2 linked regions of the Homo sapiens genome follow. The gene in region 1 interacts genetically with each later gene. Each region holds a gene or a part of one and is shown in the gene's direction. Other genes may lie near its edges.

Region 1 (4,031 bases):
TCCTCAAGGAGCTCTGGCTCCTTTTATTGGAGAATGGTACTAGAAGCAAGATCAGAGCGCTAGGTGTATTCGTTGCTACAGAGTGTTGTGTCTAGGCCCACTCAGCTGACAAAGCAAAGAGATACAAGTATGTGTACGACCCTTTATCTACAAATCTCTGTACAGACCCATTATATACATTATGAATATATAATATAGATGTAGACCCCAAACATGAGTCCATAACGATGTCTCCAACTCTAACCCTGTACCACAAGGATCACTCTAGCCTCTTCCTGGCTGTAACCTCCACTCCAGCAGTGAAGATTTGATGGCCACCATCCACCATTTACATTTGTCTATTTCCAGTATACTCGTGTGGTGGTTTCATCACCCAGTTGTTTTTCATCTCTCTTGCTTCTGCCTGTTTCCCCCGGCACTGGATCCTTTCACTCTCCTCGTAGCCGGGGCATAGGCGTTTTGAACTAGAATATTCGTCCAGCGCTGGTTTGACACGGATCTTCCGCAAAGGAACATTTCTTTTGGCCTCCCCAGACCCCGTCATCTTCCCCATTCATTCTGGCGGAGTAAGGACTGAGAAACCGTGAACCCGAGGTTCAGCAGCCGAAAGTCCCCTGGGAGATGGGGATACACCGAGAGGAATCCCATTTTACAGGAGAGCTTTGTACCCTTAGGAGTACCGTGGCCTCCGGGACTGGAGCAGATAACCTGTTTTCGGGCCCTCTATGTTCACTCAACAACTATTAAGAAGCCCCCTCCCCGAGCCAGGGCCAGCGCTGAGCCCACTAGGGAGGCACCCGCCCCGGCCCGCGTCACCCCGCCTTGCGGGCTAGACGACGAAACGCCTCGGCGCTCAGGGGACCGCGCACCGGTGCAGGAGCCAGCGCCCCGGTTGGGGGCGCAATGCCGGGCCTGGGAAGGTCCGCCCCGGCTGGTCAGAGCTTTCCTGCGCCTTCCAAGGCTTGGAGCTGCCCCGGGGAAGCAGACCGAACCAAACCGAACGTTCCTGCAGCCTCCCCGCCAGCCCTGCGGGAGCCCATCCGCCCAACGCGGCCCCGCCCCTCCCCCAGGCTCCGCCCACCGCCGAGCCCAGGCTCGGCCCTTGACGAAGTTCGCCGGAAATTACCGAAGCCCCTCTTTTTTTTCCTTCCTCTCCGTTCCCTGTTCTCCCTTTTCCTTTCACCCGGGTTCCCTCGGCCGTGATTTCCCCCTCCCCCCTCCTTCCTTCCCCATTGAAATCAAGATGGAGGCTCGCGGCAGCCGCCGGCGCCCGTGATCCCGGAGGTCTCGCCGGCCACGGGCCCCCGCCCTCGCGACTGCGCGTCCGGGAGGCGCGTGCTGCTGCCCGCGCTCCGGCCGGCGCCCGGGAGGCCGTGGCTCCGCGCCTCCGCCCCTCGGCCAGCTCGCGGCTACCGGGCGGAGTCCTCGTCTATGTGGGCGCGCTCCTTGGGCCGAGCCGCCGCCGCCGCCCCCCGCCGCCCCGGGGCTCTGCGTCCGCGCGCCGGGCGCGGGCAGCTGGGTGCTCGGCGCCGCCAGGCCCGGCGCGGAGCGGGCGGCACGCGGCGCTAGGGGCGCGGGGCCCGAGGCGGGCGCGGCCGCGGGCGCCGCCGCAGCCATGAGCGGCAGCAGCGGCGGAGCCGCCGCCCCCGCCGCGTCCTCCGGCCCCGCCGCGGCGGCCAGCGCGGCTGGCTCGGGCTGCGGGGGCGGTGCCGGCGAGGGGGCAGAGGAGGCGGCCAAGGACCTGGCCGACATCGCGGCCTTCTTCCGATCCGGTGAGTGCAACTGCGGCCGGCCCGCCCAGCGGCGCTGCCCCAAGCGCTCGGCCGACCCGCCGCGGAGCTGCCGAGCTCCGGCCACCGCGCGCTGGTGCCCGCCCGTCCGTCCGTCGGGGCCCGCAGGCTCTCGCCTGGGACCACTGCTTCCATGCGCCGGGGCTGCCCGCCCCACATCCGCGTGTCCCGCTGCCCGCGCAGCCGGGCGCGCGGCAGCTTGGCCCGAATGCCACCACCTCGCCCTCCCTGCGCCCGCCCCTCGTTTTAGGGCAGAATCCCCCGGTCTGCCGCTCCCGGCAGCCGCGGCTTCGCGGGTTGGGGCGCCGGCTCTTTGTCTCTTTCGCTGGAGGACCGAGGAGGCGGCGGCGGAGATGGCGTGGGCGGAGGCTCTTACCCCGGAGGCCGAGCGGACTGAGCCGGGGCCGGTCCGGGACGGGAAATTGGTCTTTGATCTGTGCCTGTCTCTGGCTGATTTGTACCTGGACCCTCCTCGACCCCATTAGCAGCCGGGTTTCTTTGCTTGGCCCTCTAGCCTGTCATCTCCCCGGCCTTGGTCTACACTTCTGTGAAACGGGGCAGTCACGGCACTCACTGCCCAGGGAGTGGGGACGGTGGCCGAGCTGAAGCTCGGAGGACCGGGAGGCGCGGTGAGCCATTGTCTCCGGGGACGACCCGGGAGGGTCAGCTGGGAACGTGGCCCCGGGGGGGCGGCGCGGGGCTGGGGCTCGCGGGGCACTGTGTGGGTGGCGTGGAGGTGGAGGCGGTGCCAGGTGGCCCCGAGTCCACCCCGGCGCAGAGGGGGTGGCCGCGGGAGAGGCGCGGGTGGCGACCGGTCCGCGGGAGGGGCACCGGGTTTGCTGCGCAGGGGGCGTGACAGGGCGTCCCCGGTACCCCAGCGGCGGCGCCTCCTCCCGCTCCGGCCCAGATCCCGCGCGAGCCGGGCCCGCGTCCCCGCGTCCCGCGTCCCCGCGCCCAGTCCGGTCTGCTCGCGCGTCGGCTGAGCAGCAGCAGGAGGAGGAGGAGGCGGCGGCGGCGGCGGCGGCCTCGGGGCCGGCACCCAGAGCGCAGTCCTTAGCGGGCCGGGCACGGGGCAGGGAGGATGCAGACTCCGGGTTGGAGAGCGGAGGAGGGCGGGCCAGGTCCGGGCCTGGAGAGGCGGGCGGGGGTGCTGGTGGCGGCCTCGGGGAGGACGGCCGGGCTGGGGACACCGACAGGCCGGGGGAGCGGCCCTGCGCTGGGGGACGCGCGGGAGGTCGGCGGTTCACGCTTTTCCGTGGCCTCTTTGAAAATCACCTCCCCAGATTCGGTGAGATCAGTTCCCCAATCCGGGTCACGAGGAGCAATTGCAGCGGGAGGGCGATGGTGAGAGGCAGAAGTTAGCAGTGCTGGTAGATACCTGGTTTAGTACTGTCTTCTCTTGGTTGTCTTGATCTTTGCTAGGCGGGGTTATTTTTGATTCATTTTAGCAGATTGGTTGTGGCTGGGAGTGACACAGCCGACTGTCCAGTGTTAGCTTGGGGTTAATCTACTCCCCAGTGCTCACTCTCCTTGAGAAGTGCCTGCAGAAAGCAAAGGTTTAGGAAAACATGAGCTCCTTCTAAAGAAAGCTACCCCCCCCCACCTTTTTTTTTTTGGTGCGACTGGCCAGATAGAGCAGCCCCGTCTTACCTCTTAATAGCAGAACTGGGACGTATTCCCTTCATGCCCTGAAGCTAAGTCTAGCTTTCTCTCTACCTACCTGTCACAGAATAATAGATTCTGTGCAGAATTCAGCTCCTCTCTGTTAGAAAGGCTCTTCTGCGTTGGAGATGGATTTTTTGGTGTTTGTGAGACCAGGCTTTTTTACATCTCTATTATGCATAGTACAAAAATCACTTCTGCTGCTGCTAAGAGCCCTCCCTAAAAGACACCGAAGATTTGCTGCCTGTTGGCGTGGCTCTCTCCAGGAGTTGTCGTCTGCTCTTGGCTTTGCTTAGGCCTGTGCTGCCCCCGCCGCCAGGGCTCCTGTTCATGTTCCGTTTGGGTCAGAACCAGGTAATGTCTCACTGGCTTGTTCCTTTCTTCTGCCCTCCAAAATGACAAACTTAACTTTTTAGTTGTTTCACTTAGAATCAGGAGCCAGGGCAGAACTTAAGTAGGTATCAGATGCAGCATCCCATTCCAGCGATAGCCTGGAACGTCTTTTTAAAAGTGAAATCTCCTTTGGGCAGCTCTGAGTCCCTGACCTAGATCTTGGCTCTAGCATCTAGGCCAACGATG
Region 2 (4,189 bases), on another chromosome or scaffold:
GAAACCCCATCTCTACTAAAAATACAAAAAATTAGCCACGCGTGGTAGTGCATGCCTGTACTCCCAGCTACTCGGGAGGCTGAGGCAGGAGAATCATTTGAAGCCGGGAGGTGGAGGTTGCAGTGGGTCGAGATCATGCCACTGCACTCCAGCCTGGGCGGCAGAGCAAGACTCCATCTCAAAAAAAAAAGAAAGAGTTGGGGGTATTACATAGGAAGTGATCAGCAGATAATGAATGAAACTCCACTGTTTATTCTGGAAGACACTGGCAGGCTGCTGACCTCCCCGTCACAGTGGAACGATGCTAGAACCAGCAGTCGTGTGTGTGTGTGTTGGAGGAGGCGCCATAGGAGGCTCAGGGATGGCAAACACAGTGCCCTGAGCACCGTGCCTCGCAGGGGAGTTGGGCTCAGTGGTAACTGCTGCCGTTTCCCCACCCACCTGCCTCCTGGACATCTGTTCCTAGATATCCCTCTGCCACCCAACCCCATCATTTTCTCCAAAACCCTGTCCTTCCTATGTGTTAGACATCAGAGAATGATGCCACCTTGTCCCTCTAGCCACTATGTCCCCGCCACAACCTTGGGAGTCATCCTGGACTTTCCTTCTCTCGTCACACTCACTCACTCTGCCGCCATGTCTCCTCTGTCTCTCTCACCCTCTGCCATCTCTACCCCAACAGCCCTGTCCTGGCTGTGACTTTGTCTTCATCCAGATTATGGCTCACACCGCAGTTCCTCAAAAGCACAGGGTGACTTTGTCCTTTCACTCCTTGTAGCTCCCAGGATCCATCCAAACACCCAGAACCCTCCCACCTGTCCCTCCTCTCTCCCTCACCTGCCAGGGGACGGACAGCTGCCCTGAGCCTTCACACAGTGTTCCTCTACTCAGAAGTGCCTGTCCCCACTTCTCTGCCCTGCAGTCTGTCATCTGGATCGAGGCCATCAGATAACCTGAGTGTCACTCCTCCTGGATGGTACTTACATGTCCTTTGCCAAGAGGAGCAGCCAGAATAAAATCACCAGTTCCTAGGCTCTTAGGCTCCACCCGGCCCTGAACAGCTGGCTTGTCTTGGAGTCTCTTGTGCCACCCTCCCCAGGAACAGTGGCTTCCTTGTATTGGCGCCAGCGATGATGGGCCAGCTCTGTGCTAAGTACTTAACTTACCATTCCTGGTGTCAGCCCCACAAGTCTCCTCTGAGATAGCAACCTTATTTCGACTTTTTTTTTTTTTTTTTTTTTGAGACGGAGTCTTGCTCTGTTGCCCAGGCTGGAGTGCAATGGTGCGATCTCGGCTCACTGCAGTCTCCGCCTCTTGGGTTCAGGTGAGTCTCCTGCCTCAGCCTCCTGAGTAGCTGGGGTTACGGGTGCCTGCCACTATGGCCAGCTAATTTTTGTATTTTTAGTAGAGATGGGGTTTCACCGTGTTGGTCAGGCTGGTCTCGAACTCCTGACCTCGTGATCCGCCCGCCTCAGCCTCCCAAAGTCCTGGGATTACAAGTGTGAGCCACCACACCTGGCCTTTTTTTTTTCTTTTTTTTTTTTTATGCAGGGTTTCATCCTGTTGCCTAGGCTGGAGTGCAGTGCCTGGATCATAACTCTGGATCATCACTGAAACCTGAAACTCCTGGGCTCAAGCGATCCTCCCATCTCAGCCTCCCAAGTAGCTGGGACTACAGGCCTGCACCACCATGCCTGGCTAATTTTTAATTTTTTTTTTTTAGAGATGAGGCCTCACTATGTTGCCCAGGCTGGTATCCAGGTCCTGGCATCAAGTAATCCTCTCACCTTAGCTTCCCAAAGTGCTGGCTGGGATCACAGGTGTGAGCCACCATGCCTGGCCTTGTCTCTGTTTTATAGACGAGGAAACTGTGGCACAAAGAGCTTAAATAACCTGCCCAGGTCACGCAGTAAGTGAGAGAGATGGGGTTAGAGCCTCGTCTCACCCCTTCCATCCAGAGTGGGACAGGGAATTGTCCTCCTGCATCAGGACTGAGGGCCTCGTCCCTCAAGGGCAGAGGCCCCGGGACCACGGTGCAAGTCCCAGACCCTCTTTCCGGCCTGCTTTCTAGAGCATTGAGCTGGGGCGCTGCGTGGTTTCCTCAAACCACTGACATCTGCCACTCCCCACAGGCTCATCCACCTGCAGACATGGGGCGCAGAAAGTCAAAACGAAAGCCGCCTCCCAAGAAGAAGATGACAGGCACCCTCGAGACCCAGTTCACCTGCCCCTTCTGCAACCACGAGAAATCCTGTGATGTGAAAATGTGAGTGGGGAACAGGGCAAGGGATCCAGCCTCCCCACTGCCTCTTCCCCGCTGTTCTCCATCCTGCCCCTTGCCTCCCTTGGTGAAGGCGTCATCACCCACAGGCCCAGGACGCATTGCTCACCAGTCCCTTCTCTTGGTCTGTTTCAGGGACCGTGCCCGCAACACCGGAGTCATCTCTTGTACCGTGTGCCTAGAGGAATTCCAGACGCCCATAACGTGTATCCTTGGAAACCTGGGCTTTTTCCAGAGGGTGGGGAGGGGGCTGGAGTCCGGACCCTGCTCATCTGGCCCACTGTGTGCCCTGGTGCAGGGCCAAAGCCGTCCAGAGGAACAGGTGCCACCTAGTGATTTCTGTGGGGTGAGAAGATGCAGGGCAGGGTTCCAATGCCAATGATCGCCCTTGACCTAAGTGGCCCAGATCTGTCAGAACCCGTGGATGTGTACAGTGATTGGATAGACGCCTGCGAGGCGGCCAATCAGTAGCGACACAGAGGACCCGCCCCCTGAGCAGCCCCGCGTACTGTGGATCCAGCTGTTCGGTTCTGGTCCAGAGACATTCCAGGGGTCCAGGGTGTGGGTCCTGGGCTGTCACAGCCGTGTGTGTGTGTGTGTGTGTGTGTGTGTGTGTGTGTGTGTGTGTGTGTGTAGTGGGTGTGCGTGTGGGTGTGGGTGTGAGTGAGTGTGGGTGTGTGTGGCTGCACGTGTCACTGGGGTGGCCGTGAGTGTGTGCTCACAGGTACGCGGTGGTGTCGGGTTCCTGGGCCTGAGGGGCCTGAACTGATCTCACTTGGCTCCGAAAGCCTTTGCTGTGTTCCCTGCAGCCCCTGGCCCCCCAGCCTTGGGGCTCTGGCTCCCCCCGGCGGAATTGGGGGACTGTTTCCTGACATCCTGGACAAGGGAAGCCCACTAGAGGCTGGAACAGGACCTCTCCAGCCTCCTCACCAGCACCGTGCCCATCTCAACTGGACTTCCCGCTCTCCTTCTCCACCTTCTAGTGCCCGTGGCCGGGGATTCAAAGCCGCCGTTCCCCAGGTCCCTGGGCTGGGCCCTGACAGGGAGCCGCCCCCCTCCCCATGGTAACCAGGAAGCCCGTTTCATGTTCAGTTGCTTTTGTAGAGGAAGCAAGGGCTGGGATGGGGACAGCTGTCAATCACAAGCCCTTAAATAAAGCAGCCAGCGCACATCCCTTGCTGTCCGTGATGTCTTGGGTTCTGCGTCTGCCTGGTCACCAGAAGAAGGAGAGGGGACCTGAGGCTCTGACGTTCGGGAGGTGGCCTGGTGGCCCATGTGACCAGCCCTTCAAACCACCCAGCGTTTTATTCAGTCAGTAAGCATTCAGGGTGGTGGAGCAGGCAGACATCTGGCCAGGTGTTTACAGCAGTCACAATAGGAAATGGGGGAGGTGAGACAGAACAGGTGGTCAGAGGAGGCTTCTGGGAGGGGCAGGCTGAGACAGTGACACCGTAGGGCCACCTCTAGCCAGACGCTGACCTCTGGCCTTCCTGCGTCGCCCCAGTGTCCTGACAGCCACTTTGTGGGGCAGGTGCCAAGCTAACCCCAAGTTCAAAGATGAGGAAACAGAGGCTAGAGGTGAAGGAGGTCACTGGCCCAAGACCCTACAGCCAGAAAGTGGCACAGGGGGGATTTGAACCCAGGAAACGAGGCTCCACAGCTTACAGTCTGACTTCTTGTGAGCCCAGAGTCCAGGCTGAGGGAACAGCTTACAGGCCGTTCTGGAGGTAGTGAGTGGAAGAGGGACACGGGAGGGAAACATGAAAGGGGCCTTTATTCAAGGGTGGTGAGGACTCTCAGAAGGCTGGTGTTGGGGCGGGATGTGTGTGGCCGATGGGGAGCACCTGAGGGCTGATGTCCCCTTAGCTGGTCGCACCGGTGACAAGGACCACAACACCCAGCAACCTG

Evidence for each region.
Region 2: changes in TRIO (region 1) and ELOF1 together harm fitness more than expected from each alone (negative genetic interaction), as found in Homo sapiens cells (one large-scale study listed by BioGRID).

The regions. Positions count from the first base shown.
Region 1 is NC_000005.10:14,142,111-14,146,141, forward strand, and holds the start of TRIO (triple functional domain protein), read left to right. Parts: upstream 1-1,231; 5' UTR 1,232-1,615; coding exon 1,616-1,772; exon of another isoform or gene 1,773-2,419; intron 2,420-2,695; exon of another isoform or gene 2,696-2,871; coding exon of another isoform or gene 2,872-2,911; intron 2,912-4,031. UniProt on the Homo sapiens protein: Guanine nucleotide exchange factor (GEF) for RHOA and RAC1 GTPases. Involved in coordinating actin remodeling, which is necessary for cell migration and growth. Plays a key role in the regulation of neurite outgrowth and lamellipodia formation.
Region 2 is NC_000019.10:11,552,309-11,556,497, reverse strand, and holds the end of ELOF1 (transcription elongation factor 1 homolog), read left to right. Parts: intron 1-922; exon of another isoform or gene 923-1,153; intron 1,154-1,244; exon of another isoform or gene 1,245-1,324; intron 1,325-2,132; 5' UTR 2,133-2,150; coding exon 2,151-2,266; intron 2,267-2,416; coding exon 2,417-2,487; intron 2,488-2,687; coding exon 2,688-2,752; 3' UTR 2,753-3,452; downstream 3,453-4,189. UniProt on the Homo sapiens protein: Factor involved in transcription-coupled nucleotide excision repair (TC-NER), a mechanism that rapidly removes RNA polymerase II-blocking lesions from the transcribed strand of active genes.